Regions from separate parts of the Homo sapiens genome. Here region 2 is reported to be linked to region 1. The links are microRNA targets in miRTarBase. Many come from high-throughput screens and were not tested one by one. Region 1 holds a microRNA gene; the other region holds the end of a gene's coding sequence.
Evidence for each region. Region 1 holds the annotated microRNA hsa-miR-3116 (UGCCUGGAACAUAGUAGGGACU, at 3,258-3,279, shown strand). A microRNA usually pairs through its seed, bases 2 to 8, with sites in the 3' UTR of a target mRNA and lowers its output. Matches are read on the target gene's strand: a 7mer-m8 pairs with bases 2 to 8, a 7mer-A1 pairs with bases 2 to 7 and ends in A, and an 8mer does both.

Region 1 (7,124 bases):
TTTATTTTCCTTTCATGAGGGCCTGATGAAGTGTAAATCCTTTCTCTAGAAAAACACTGACAAGGGCCGGGCGCAGTGGCTCACGCCTGTAATCCCAGCACTTTGGGAGGCCGAGATGGGTGGATCACAAGGTCAGGAGATCTAGACCATTCTCACTAACACGGTGAAACCCCGTCTCTACTAAAAATACAAAAAATTAGCCAGGCGTGGTGGTGGGTGCCTGTAGTCCCAGCTACTCGGGAGGCTGAGGCAGGAGAATGATGTGAACCCGAGAGGCAGAGCTTGCAGTGACCAGAGATCGCGCCACTGCACTCCAGCCTGGGCAACAGAGCGAGACTCCGTCTCAAAAAAAAAAAAAAAGAAAAGAAAAACACTGACAAGTACAATTTTGATACAACTACAAGGGTGTTTTACAACTAAACCAGTGGTTCTTAACCCTGTTTTATAATAGGAACACCTAGAGAGCTTTAAAAAAAATCACGAATGCTAGGACCCCCATCCCAGACCAAATAAACTGGCATCTAGGGATGTGGATCCCAGGCAAGTTTTGTTTTGTTTTGTTTTGTTTTTGAGACATCGTTTAAAGTTAAACCATGGATTCTTAAGCCAGGGCTTCTTAAAAGAAGATTAAGTCTTAATCAATAAGTCTCAATTAAAAACAAAAACAAAAAACAAAAAAAACCTGCCTGGGACCCACACCCCTAGATGCTAATTTATTTTGCCTGCGATGGGGATCCTAGCATCTGTAATTTTTAAAAGCTCCGTAGGTGTTCCTATTATGAAACAGGGTTGAAAACCACAGGTTTAGTTAGGTTGGATGACCTATAAAGTCCATCTCAGTTCTTATAATACAGTAACATACAACAGCAAATCCATTCTTTCTGATCTTTCTTACACAGTAGTTTGGTTTTGTGCCAATGAATGAGTCATGGGAACACTCCTTCATCCATCACCACACATACCGACAACTGGAGGCCAGCCTCTATGTATATATGTTTGGACATTTCACTTGGATTCTATGGACTGCTTCCTTATTGTTAAATTGAATTCAATTCCACCAGTATCTATCAGGGACCTATTATGCACCAGATGCTACATGAAACTGGGATATAAAGAAAAGCAACAATCATCTCATGCTATAGAAAAGTCGTAATTTAGTAATCTAGATTGCTCTCTTTAGTGCTTTCTTATTTTAAAAGTCGCGTGATTTTTCATAAAAGAACTCTGCGGCTTGCACCCAGCTTTGTTGGGAATCCATGTTCTTTCTTGAGGTGATATAAAATGTAAGTTGGAGGTAAGTACTGTGTGAGTTAAGACACAGGCTCAATTGCTGCAAGAAGTTCTCTTTAGCATAAGAGTCTGTGTGTGGCTGTGTGTGGTCAGTTGGGGAATGATATGGTGTCTCCAAAGTGTCAGAGACCCAAGCACCTCTTATCTGATTACTATACCATTCTTATTTGATTACTCTACCACCCTCAAATGGTGGCATCCATTCTTTAGTTTAAGAGGGCTGCTTCAGTTATTACCAACACATCTGTATTCCAAGCAGTGAGAAGGGAAAGACAGGATCTTTCTCCTTAGGAGAATGACCTAAAAATTGTACATTCACTTCTGTTTACATCCCATTGACCAGGACTTAGCCTGTTGGCACACCTACCTTCAATGAGGCTAGTAAATGTGGTCCTTAGAATAATTGGATATCTAAGTCCTCTCAATGTTGTTTTCTTATAGTAACCCCTTATTTGTCCTTTTCTACTTTCTTCCTTTAAAAATCACTGATAAATATGTAATTGAAAAAGTCTCTTTTTAGTCAATATTAAATGATGCTGATAGTGGCGGGGCACAGTGGCTCATGCCTGTAATCCCAGCACTCTGAGATGCTGAGGTGGGTGGATTGCTTGAGTCCAGGAGTTCGAGACCAGCCTGGGCAACATAGCAAAACTCCATCTTTACTAAAAATACAAAAAATTAGCCAGGCGTGGTGGTGTGCGCCTGTAATCCCAGGTATTCAGGAGGCTGAGGTGGGAGAATCACCTGAGCCCAGGACATCAAGGCTTCAGTGAGCCGAGATCACACAACTATTACAGCCTAGGTGACAGAGTGAGACCCTGTCCAAAAAAAAAAAAAAAAGAAGATGGTGATAGAAAAACTGCAGGAAAAAACAAAAAAACTCCATAGAATCATTGCCTATCAGCTGTTTGATAAACACTTTAAGCTTGTAGCATTCTTCAACTATTGACTTCCGGTTCTACCTCTTTCTCTAATTAGCAGTGTGATTTCAAATATGTCACTTGACATTTATGCTTGGTTTTCTGCAAAAAGAAAAAAAGTAATATTTAACTGTCGGGGTTGTTCATGTGATTGAATGAATTTATGGATGTAAAAGTGTTTTGAAAACTAGAAAGCACAGTGCATATGCACAATGGATGGTATTGTTTTGTTGTTACTGCACACTGCACAATGCCCTGTATTGAGGCACAGCTTTCCACTGACAGAATCTTGAGGTGTTACAGTTCTGGAGCAGTTACCTTGGTCCTATTTCTAGACTCCAGGGGCAACCTGGTGCTTCACTACCAGACTCTTCCAGCTGGGGATGGGTTCCCTGGCCAACTGCAGATCCAGAAGGCAGGTCAGGTTACTACCTATATTTCTTAACTGCCTGTTAAATAAGCAAGGAGTCCTTTTGGTTTTTCTTAGTGTATGTATGTATGTATGTATTTATTTTTGGAGACGGAGTTTCATTCTTGTTGCCCAGGCTGGAGTGCAATGGCACGGTCTCAGCTCACTGCAACCTCTGCCTCCTGGGTTCAAGCAATTCTCCTGCCTCAGCCTCCCAAGTAGCTGGGATTACAGGCATGCATCACCACGCCTGGCTAATTTTTGTATTTTTTTCAGTAGAGATGGGGTTTCACCATGTTAGCCAGGCTGGTCTCGAACTCCTGATGTCAGGTGATCTGCCCATCTCAGCCTCCCAAAGTGCTGGGTTTACAGGCGTGAGCCACCATGCCTGGCCCCTTAGTTTTTTAATATTAATATTCATTGGAGGTACTGTCAGCAAAAATCCAGAATTACAAGTTAATTTTTCCCAAACTCACACAGTAGAGGTCCCTGTACCTTCACTGAATTGCAAGTTCACTTTCTACCCTGAGTTACTCATGTCTTCAGTTTTGCTTTTCTTTGTTCTTTCTTTCTTGTTCATTCATTCATCAAGCACTTTATTGAGTCCCTACTATGTTCCAGGCACTGGGTATCGTAGGTGCCTGGAACATAGTAGGGACTCAATAAAGGAGCTATGCTTCCTTTATGTGAATTAAATGTCACTGATGTAGCTGGCATTTAGTAGGCTTTCAGTAGGTGTTGGTTTTCTTTGTCTGCCCCTCATTTTGCTTAATTAACCTACCAAATGCATCTTTGACTCTAGTGTGTCCAGAAGAAATGGACAGTGTTGATGCTCTAAACATCCCCAGCGTAGATTGTTTTTCAATGTGCACAACACAGATAAGTCACTTCAAAGTCCATAGATAAAGGGGCTTCTTGCTGATTTCATCAGAATGAGTAGAAATTGCAAGATAATTTTTGTTTTGCCTCCCACCCCCAGCTTCATGTACAGATCACACTGACAGAGTATCTTCAGCTTTTATCTTTCCTCCCTTCCTTGATCTGCCCTTCATCAAAGCATTTTAGTTGTAAAGTTAAATAGGGAAGAATGAGGAACGAGGCATAAATCATCCTAACTTCTTGCCACCCTCCAACCTTATATTCTCAAAAGACATCATTGGACTGCACCATTGTTTTGGTAACAATACACCAGTTTTAAAGTATTTTCTTGTTACCTTTCTCCTTTTTGATATTCATCTAATTTTCCTTTCTTTTGTAGGCTGTCAGCCAGATGAAACAGCAAAAATATCCAACAAAAGTCTCCTTCAGTTCACAAGAGATACCATTAGCACCAGCTTCATCATACCATTCAACAGATGCAGACTTCACAGGCTATGGTATGATTCTTTCTCTCAGCAGATCTGGCTCATTAAGCCTTAGAGAAGGCAAGGGATCATAATGTCCTAAAACGAGAACTGGACCAGGAGGCAGAAGTCTGACTCTGGATACTTCCTCCGCTTCCTTAGCTTTGGGGCTTGGATAGGTCACTTCATTTCCTACATCATTTTTCCTCCTCTCTGCCATCGCCATTGCCTGTTGCTTTTTGAATATAAGAGCACTAGAACAGAACAGGACCTCAGTAGGTCAGGAGTTCAAGACCAGCCTGGCCAACATGGTGAAACCCTGTCTCTACTAAAAATACGAAAAATTAGCCAGGCATGGTGGCGCATGCCTGTAATCCCAGCTACTCGGGAGGCTGAGGCAGGAGAATCGCCTGAACCCAGGAGGCAGAAGTTGCAGTAAGCTGAGATTGCACCACTGCACTCCAGCCTGGGTGACAGAGTGAGACTCTGTCTCAAAAAAAAAAAAAAGGAAAAGAAAAGGACCTCAGTAAATGTTATTTGAATCTGAGGCTTCTGTATTATTCTTCTCTAATCTCTACAAAAGATTATATTTAGGTCTTGAGTAATATCTCTTTAAAAATCCTATCAAACCCAATTTTTAGCCCTGCAAATGTTGCTTTAAGCTGTTTGAAGAATGTTGATTTTCAATGCTTAAAGAAATTGGCATGCACATTCTGTCTTTAAATTCCTGGCTTGAATTATGCTGACTGGGGGTTGAAAATAGAACTTTATAAAGAATAATAGGTATTTCTACTTGCTTTTTTTTCTTTTTTTTTGAGACAGAGTCTCATTCTGTCACCCAGGCTGGAGGGCAGGGGGCTGATCTCAGCTCACTGCAACCTCTGCCTCCTGGGTTCAAGTGATTCTCCTGCCTCGGCCTCCTGAGTAGCTGGGATTACAGGTGCTCACCACCATGCCCGGCTAATTTTTACATTTTTAGTAGAGATGGGGTTTCACCATGTTGGCCAGGCTGGTCTCAAACTCTTGACCTCAAGTGATCTGCCTGCCTCGGCCTCCAAAAGTGCTGGGATTACAGACGTGAGCCACTGTGCCCAGCCCTACTTTGCTTTTGTGCAGTATACATCAGTAAAAAATAAAACTCTTTAAAAGACAGTACTCACCAATGGCAAAGCATAACCCTGCATTAATTTAGCAGTTCTGAAATCTTTGTGGTATTTGCCTTTTATATATTTTTTCATAAATATTAACTTCATAAAGTTCATCAAGCAGGTACTATTTTAAAGCATTGTAGATGTACTAAAACATTTGATGCATGTGGTCAGAAAACTATGGCGCATGGGTCAAATCTGGCCTACCAGCTAGTTGTGTATGGTCTACAAGCTAAAAAAGGTGTTCACTTTTTAAAGGTTGAAAAAACACCTAAGAAAATTTTATTAAAATATTCTATGAAATTCATATTTCAGTGTCCACAAATACAGGTTTATAGACACTCATTTGTTTCTGTATTGTCAGTGGCTTTTTTCACACTATAATGATGGAGTTAAGTAGTCACAACAGAGACAGTCTGGCCTGTAATGCCCTATTAAAATATGTATACTTGGCACTTTACCAACAATGCATGCTGACTATGGAGGTAGACAAGTTGAGTTTTGGTAATATATATCACATATTTATACTTAGATGACAGAAATTCAGCATCCTTCCTGGTTTTCATTCTCATGGTTAAATAATAAATAAACAAATAAATAAATAAATGAAGTTCATCATCCTACAGTTGAATCTATAGAAATTTTATTCATTTACTCATCTACTTACCAAGCATTTATTGAGGACTTGGTATGAGCTGGGTTTGGGGCTGGATTCCATGAGAGAAGTAAATAAAAAGATTGACTCAGGACTGGCTAGGGTGAGGCAAACGTGGAGGAGGGAAAAGAAATGCCATCTCCAGGATGTCTCACCAGGTTTTTTTCTCTCTTCTCACTCAGGAGACTACGCTAGTCATTTACAAAGGCAGTATAAACTTTTTATTTACTTATCTATTTATTTATTTGAGATGGAGTTTTGCTCTTGTTGCCCAGGCTGGAGTGCAATGGTGTGATCTCGGCTCACTGCAACCTCTGCCTCCTGGGTTCAAGTGATTCTCCTGCCTTAGCCTTCCTAGTAGTTGGGATTACAGGCATGTGCCACCATGCCTGGCTAATTTTGTATTTTTAGTAGAGACAGGGTTTCACCATGTTGGTCAGGCTGGTATCAAACTCCTGAACTCAGGTGATCCGCCCACCTCAGCCTCCCAAAGTGCTGAGGTTACAGGCGTGAGCCACCGCACCCGACCTAAAAGCAATAGAAACTTTTTAAAGCACCCATGAAAGTGTGCCACTATCGTACGTCATTTTTATTGTAAATTAATGGGAAATGTGGTATAAAATACATATGCTGCAAAAAGATTTAAAGACAAATTTGGTTTACAATTTAATATTCTGCCTTGCCTGTATCTTACCTAGAGCCTTTCTTTTTGTCTTATTGGCAAGATTTTTCTATAAAGAAGTCGATAGTAAATATTTTAGGCTGTGGTCCACACAGCCTCTGTTGTAGTTTCTCACCCCTGCCATTGTAGTGTGCTAGCCACCATAGGCTGGCCATAGGCTACTTCTAAATATGGCACTTTTTATGGTTGTATCACTGAATTTCTTGCTGTTAACCAGGAGGCCTTTAGATTAATAAATTCCATATGGATGGGAACAAGATATGTGAATACCCACAATGTGCCAGACTCTGGGCCGGGCACCTCACACACACTGTTCATTTAGTTTCTCTAACAGCCTCTTTAATAGTGGTTACATGCATTTTTCTGATGAGAAGTGAGCTCCACTTTCACCCTCCTGTTAAATTCCTGCTTAGGAACTCAACTGTGGCTCTGTGCCACTCCAAAACCTGTGCCTTTTCATCTCAAAGACCATGATTATCACTTAGTTAGAGCAGAACCCCCACAGGCTTACCTAGAGCCTGTTTCTTTTTGTTTTATACCAGAGATTGACAAGCTTTTTCTATAAAGAAGTAGATTGTAAATATTTTAGGCTTATGGGCCACACAACCGCTATTGCAGTTACTCACCCCTGCCATTGTAGTATGCTAGCAGCCATAGGCTAGGCATAAATGAATTAG
Region 2 (7,124 bases), not on the chromosome of region 1:
TTTCTCTTCTGAGAGGGCTGGTATTCCTTTAACTGTGGTGTAAGTTGAATATAGTCATTTGCTTCATTTATGAGTGCTGTCAGAGGGCCAAGGCTCTGTACAAGATCTTTGTGGCTGGATTCTTGCCCTGAGTTTCACAGACCAATATTTAATATATTGGCAGAATATTTTTGGTGTAATTTGGGCTATCATCCAGCAGATGGCGCATAAGAGTAACGGCCAGCGCTGCGGGTTTTTACGTTTCAGCGAGCTCGCAACAACGTCCTGTGGTGTGGCCCAGCGCGGGGAGCTGACCCCACCAGCTCCGCTCTCAAGCCTTCGGAGAGTCCTCTCCAGTCACTATCGTCATTCCCGCATTTCCTTTGCTAGGCTGTCCGGGCTGGGCAGCTCCCTCAGGCGGACACCCATGGCTGGCAGACCTTCCGCGCCTGCCCCTAATCTGGGCATATCACTCCCTCGGTTTTCTGAGACTCGGGACTCCTTGCCCGCTGGAGCGCAGGCCATGAATCTGGGTCCCGCACTGCGGCGCTGCACGCCGCAGCCCAGGGCTTTGGCCCCAGCCAGCACATCCGCCATCCTGCACCCCAGGTTCCGGCACGGGCTGCGACGGGGCCTCGGAACTGCTCCCAAGCGGCTGGGAAAGAACTCAGTCAGGCATGTCGGCCTGCAAAGCACCCAGGATGGGCAGTGGAGTCTGCACCGTTGACAGGCTCCTAGAGCGGCCAGGCAGAGGACTTGAGAGGGGCTGGAGGGCAGGAGGTCCTGCGGAACAGAAGTGCCCCACTCCGAAGGGAAAGTCGACCCTGCTGTTCTCTTTGCGCGGCAGTCAGTGGGGTTAGAGTTATTCGGAAGAGGACGGAGAGCCTTGGGGGATGGGTGCGCATGGCCATGTTCCACTGGAACTGCCCCCAACGCAAAACAAACAAACAAACAACAACAACAACAAAAACCGGGCTCTATGCAGGCTGGAGTTCTGCCTCTGCCTGCTTGTAGGGCATATCCCCATGCCAGTTCGAATGTTTATGGGGAGTGTAGGATCTCTTGTGGCTGGAATCCTAGAGGTCCACAGCAAGAGTGGGCTGCCTTGCCAAGGGTTGTTCAGGGCCAGGAACTGGCACTGGTGTTCCAGAACCTGAAAGGGTTCCCGGTCTCCCTTTCTGTCAGCGGGAGTGGTGCTTCCTGTCTGCGTCTATTTGGCCATCTTGTCTCTGTTGACCAAATAGCTTTTTTGAGAAGAAAAATGAAATTGATAAATCTCTAGCTAAGCCGATTAGTTTTAAAAAAAAAAGATACAATTAACACTGTCAGGAAGGAAGTGGCAATGCTAAAGATTCTACAGATATTCAAATAATTTTTAAAAATGGTATGCCAATAAATTAAACAACTTAGATGAAGCTCATAAATTCCTTGAAAGTAACCACCAAAGCTCATTGAAGAAGGAATCCTTTGAACAGCTCAACATCTAAAAAAAACTGAATCTGGCCGGGTGCGGTGGCTCACGCCTGTAATCCCAGCACTTTGGGAGGCTGAGGCGGGCGGATCACAAGGTCAGGAGTTCGAGACCAGCCTGGCCAGCATGGTGAAACCCCGCCCCTACTAAAATACAAAAATTAGAGGGACATGGTGGCTCGCGCCTGTAATCCCAGCTACTTGGGGGCTGAGGCAGGAAAATCGCTTGAACCCGGGAGGCGGAGGTCGCAGTGAGCCGAGATGGTGCCACTGCACTGCAGCCTGGGCGACAAAGCAAGTCTCCGTCTCAAAAAAAAGAAAAAAAAGAAACTGAATCTGTAGTTGAAAACCTTACTACAAAGAAAACCCTATGCCCAGATGACTTCAAGGGTAAATTGTATCAAACATTTAATGAAGAAATAGTACTAATTCTAAACCAAATCTTCCAGAAAAATTGACATTGAGAAATATTTATCTGATATTCAAATAAGGCAAAGTCATAAAGAGAAAAGAAAACTATGTTTAAAAATACTGGCCATGGCCAAGCACGGTGGCTCACACCTGTAATCCCAGCACTTTGGGGGCCTAGGCGGGCAGATCACCTGAGGTCAGGAGTTCGAGACCACCCTGGCCAACATGGTGGAACCCTATCTCTACTAAAAATGCAAAAATTTGCTGAGTATGGTGGGGGGTGCCTGTAATCCCAGCTACTCAGGAGGCCAAGGCAGGAGAATCGCTTGAACCCGGGAGACAGAGGTTGCAGTGAGCCAAGATCGCGCCACTGCACTCCAGCCTGGGCGACAGAGCAAAACTCCACCTCAAAAAAAAAAAAAAAAGTACTGGCCAGGCATGGTGGGTCACACCTGTAATCCCAACACTTTGAGAGGCCGAGGCAGGAGGATCACTTGAACCTGGGACTTCAAGGCCAGCCAGGGCAACATAAGAAGAGCCTGTCTCTTTCTCTCAAATTAAAATAATTAGCTGGGGATGATGGTGCATGCCTGTGGTCACCGTTGTCCCAGCTACTTTGGAGGCTGAGGCAGGAGGATCACTTCAGCCTGGGAGGTCAAAGCTTCAGTGACCTGTGGTCGTGCCACTGCAGTCCAGCCTGGGCAACAGAGTAAGACTCTACCTCTAAAAAACCAGAACAAAATGAACAGAAACAAAAAACCCATAAATATAGTTGCAAACATTCTAAGCCAAATTTTAACAGAAATAACCCATAATATAATACATATAACAGATCTAATCCATTAATATAATGCAATCCTAAATTGTTTTAACCTTATATAATTAATGAGTGTAATTCATGTTAAAAGACTAGAAATTTTTAACCTAAAAAAAAACAAAGAAAATACTAGATATTTTTAAAATAAAAATGTATATATAATCATCTCAATAGATGTAGAAAAATATTAGACAAAATTAACACCTATTCCTGATCAGTCCTCTAAGAATGCAAGGAACAAAAGGGAACTTCCTAAAACTGATTAAGGACGTCTATGAAACATCTACAGTTTACACCATACTTAGTGGTGCAACACTGAATGATCTCTTCTCAAGATCAATTTCAAAATAAGGATATTGTTCTCACTACTTTTATTTCTCATTGAACGGGAGGTTCAGGCAAGGAAAAGAATAAAAGCATTGGAAAGGAAAAGATAGAAGTGCTTCCGCTGGCACACAGAATGATTATTTGTGTAGAAAATCTGATGACATCTACAAAAAAAGTTACTAGAAGAAACAAATAAGTTTATCAAGGTTTCAGAATATAAGGTGAATATTTAAAAGTCTATTATATTTCTCCATACTAGCAATAAACAGTTGGAAATTAAAATTATCAATGATAATTCCCATGTACAGTAGCGTCGAAACTATGAAGTATATATGGTAAGCTAACAAAATATGTAAAAATATCTGTAAGAGAAAACTGCAAAACATTGCTCAGAGAAATTTTAAAATACCTAAATAAATGCAGAGACATACTTTATTCAAGAGTCAGAAAAATCAATATTTTTAAGGTTTCAATTCTGCCCAAATCGATTTGTAGATTCAATGTAATCACAATCAGAATTCCAAAAGAGTTTTTGTAGAAATTAGTGAGCCAATTCAAAAATCAATATGGAAAATATAGTGACATAGCTCAGCCAATGTAACTTTGCAAAAGAAAAATAAATTTGAAGGACTGTCACTGCATGATTTTAAGATTTATTATAAAACTACAGTATTCAAAATAATGTGGTGGTGGTGTATAAATACGCAAATACAAAAATACAACAATCAGTGGAATAAAATAGAGAGTTTAGAAATAATCCCATGAATATACAGACAACTGATTGGTGATAAAGGTGCAAAAGCAATTTAGTAAAGAAAAATAGTCTTTTCGACAAATTTACATTTGTCGAATTAATCCCAAATAAATCATAGACCTCAGTATAAAACCTGAAGCTATAAAATGTCTAGAAAAAAATAAAGGAGAAAATTTTTGTGACCTTGAGTTAGTCAATGAGTTCTTACAAACCACAGCAGAATAATAAAAATGGACTTCATTAAAATAAAAAACTTCTGCTTTATGAGTATATTGTTCAAAGAATGAAAAGACAGGCTGGGCGGTGGCTCACACCTGTAATCCTAGTACTTCGGGAGGCCAAGGCAGGCAGATCACTTGAGGTCAGGAGTTCAAAACCAGCCTGGCCAACATGGTGAAACCCCATCTCTACTAAAAATACAAAAACTTAGCCAGGCATGGTGGTGGGCACCTGTAATCCCAGCTACTTGGGAGGCTGAGGCAGGAGAATCACTTGAACCTGGGAGGCGGAAGTTGCAGTAAGCTGGGATTGCACTACTCCAGCCTGGGCAACAGAGTGAGACTCCCTCTCAAAAAAAAAAAAAAAAAGACAAGACAAGAAAAACATTTCAAGATGCATATCTGATAAAAGGTTTTTATCCCAAATATATAAAGTTCTCAAACTCAACAGTAAGAAAAATAAACCAAGTAAAAATTCTCAAAAGATTTATACAGTTACTTTATCAAAGTTACCTAATACAGATGGTAAATAAGCTTATAAAAATTTGCCTGGGGCGGTGGCTCACGCCTGTAATCCCAGCACTTTCAGAAGCTGAGGTGGGTGGATCACCTGAGGTCAGGAGTCTGAGAACAGTCTGGCCGACATGGTGAAACCCCGTCTCTGCTAAAAATACAAAAATTAGCTGGAAGTGGTAGCGGGCGCCGGTAATCCCAGCTACTTGGGAGGCTGAGGCAGGAGAATTGCTTGAACCCAGGAGGCGGAGGTTGCAGTGAGCTGAGATTGTGCCACTGAACTCCAGCCTGAGCAACAAGAGCGAAACTCTGTCTCAAAAACAAACCAACAAACAGAAATTTGTAGGATACACAGATTAAAACTATGAGGATATACCATTCGATATCTACTAGAATCATTAAAACTATAAGACGAACCATATGAAATTCTGGCATGGATGAGATGGAACTGGAGCACTCATACACTGCTGGTAGGAATGAAAAATGGTACAACTTTGGAAAAGAGTTTGTCAGTTTCCTAAATAGTTAATCATACACCTACTGTGTGATCCAGACGTTATACTCCTAAGTATTTAACCAAGAGAAAAGAAATCCTATGTTCATACAGACTTGTACACAAATGTTCACAGCAGCTTTATTTGTAATATCCCAAAACTAAAACAACCCAAATGTCATCAACAAGTAAATGGGTAAATGAATTGTGGTATATCCATACAAGGGAATATTCAACATTTAAAAGAATGAATTCATACGAGCATCAAGATGGAGACATATGAATCTCAAAATAATTATGCAAAGTGAAAGAAGCCAGACAAAAAAAAAAGACATACTATATGATTCCATTCACATAAAACTACAAAATGCAAAATGAAAGCCGATTGGTGGTTTTCTGGGGAGGAGTCATCAGGAGGAGCATTGTGACACTTTGAGGGATGATGGATATGTTCACTCTCTTAATTGTAGTATGCATGTTCTCCACAAGGTGTGAAAACTTATCAAATAGTACACTTTAAATATGTTCAGTTTATTTTATGTTAATTATATCTCAATAAAGCTTTTAACAAAAGCAAACATCTCTTGCCTACATAAGGATGACACAGCTCTTAAAAAAAAAAAAAGATTCCTGCTAGATTGTGTGCAGCAAAATAAAAAGGCTTCCTTTAAAGTAGAATAGCCTGTGAAGAGTGGGTGGAAAGGAAATAGAAGCCTAAAAATAGAAGATATATTTCTAATTCCATCTGTTTCTATTCAGCGATATTTGCATACCTGGCTTAGTTTGTTCTAGATTGAGTGTCTTCATTTTTTTTGTCTTGTATGTTTCGGAATTATAGCATAGCAAAACAGAGTTGAGAAGAGTTCATCTACAAAAGGTATGTTCTTTAGGGAAAGAAATTCTATTCTTACCTCTGGGCCACACATCCCATGATTCTAACAAGAACTGTTGTGAAGGGTTAAATCTATTAATCTGTCCTCTGGTAGAAAAAAAAATGAAGAAATAATAACTGATTCAGGAAGTGGTAACAGGTTGTGGATTAGCTTACAGAAAAGACCACTCACTTACTAATTACTTTCTTGGGCTCCCCACTTGTCCCAAAATGTGTGTGTGTGTGTGTGTGTGTGTCTGTCTGTCTGTCTGTCCGTAAGTGGTAGAGTCTGGAGATGGACCACAGTTTAAAAACCAAGGATTGATACCTTTTTTAAAGTTAAGAACATGAGTTTCTTGATTTCGGAATGGCCTCTGTCCTTCTTTGTTTCTTCACGTGCACTTTTTCCCAGACATATTTCCCCTTTTTGCTCTCTGCCTGCACTTGAGCAAGTTCTCCATGTTCTGTCTTTCATGCAATTTTAGGAGTGTGAGGGGAAGGTGATAATGAGGTAAAGAAGACTGAGTTCAGAGGGTTTTCAAGCTTGAAGAGGAGTCAAATTTTAAAATAAAAAGGGGAAAATGGACTTCAGGCTGGCAGGGAAGCTTGGGACAAGCTAGGTGAAATAATACAGGTAGCTAGAATCAAAAATGTTGACATAAAGGTGCCAGGCTCCTGGAACCCCAGTTTCTGCAAAGGAGTTCTGCAGCCAGCTAAATGACAGTTTTCTGGGCTCTCATGTTTGGCACCCAAGTGACAAAGAATAGCTTAAATTCCAGAATAAAACTCAAAGACTTTTTTCTTTTCTTCCAGAGCCTTCAAATTCACTGTGCTCTTAGGTTTGCCTTCTTCTGACATATACTGAAGGCAGCTAAAATGCAGTTTTCCGCATAAACAGCTCCTCGTTGTATATATGCACAGGTACCTGAAGGGTATGTCTGGGAGACAGCGCCTCGGACTCTAAATCTGCAGGTAGGAAAAAACAAAACAAACCAACAAAAAAACTTAGGTTTACTGCCACCTTGTTTCAGAAACTTAGCTTTTGAAACTTTTTGTCTTAAAGCCTCCAATCAGTAATAAATGTGGGAAGGAAAACTCAAGAAAATGTCTGAATGGTTAATGAGTAAATCTTTTTGTGAAAGAGGTAAGGAAGGAGACTTTGAGAAATTCCCCCAAGCTTCTCTCTGGCAAGAAGAGGACATTGGTGGGATGCAGGCAGTGACCTCACTAGCAGGTTCAGCAAAGAATAGGAAACTGACGAGAGAGGCATC

Region 2: the mRNA of OLR1 is a reported target of hsa-miR-3116. The part of its 3' UTR that is shown has no 7-base or 8-base seed match.

What each region holds. Positions count from the first base shown.
Region 1 is chr1:62,075,573-62,082,696 of GRCh38, forward strand. MIR3116-1 (microRNA 3116-1) reads left to right here and starts at 3,214; the gene lies at 3,214-3,287. PATJ (PATJ crumbs cell polarity complex component) reads left to right here. Exons shown (of 44, transcript NM_001350145.3): 32 at 3,878-3,995. MIR3116-2 (microRNA 3116-2) reads right to left here and starts at 3,284; the gene lies at 3,217-3,284.
Region 2 is chr12:10,153,203-10,160,326 of GRCh38, forward strand. It overlaps OLR1 (oxidized low density lipoprotein receptor 1), which reads right to left. Exons shown (of 6, transcript NM_002543.4): 6 at 5,099-6,819. The coding sequence ends at 6,678. Among named protein-coding and RNA genes, the nearest start is that of OLR1, 15 kb to the right of the region's middle. RefSeq lists enhancers at 84-587, 442-531, 542-731.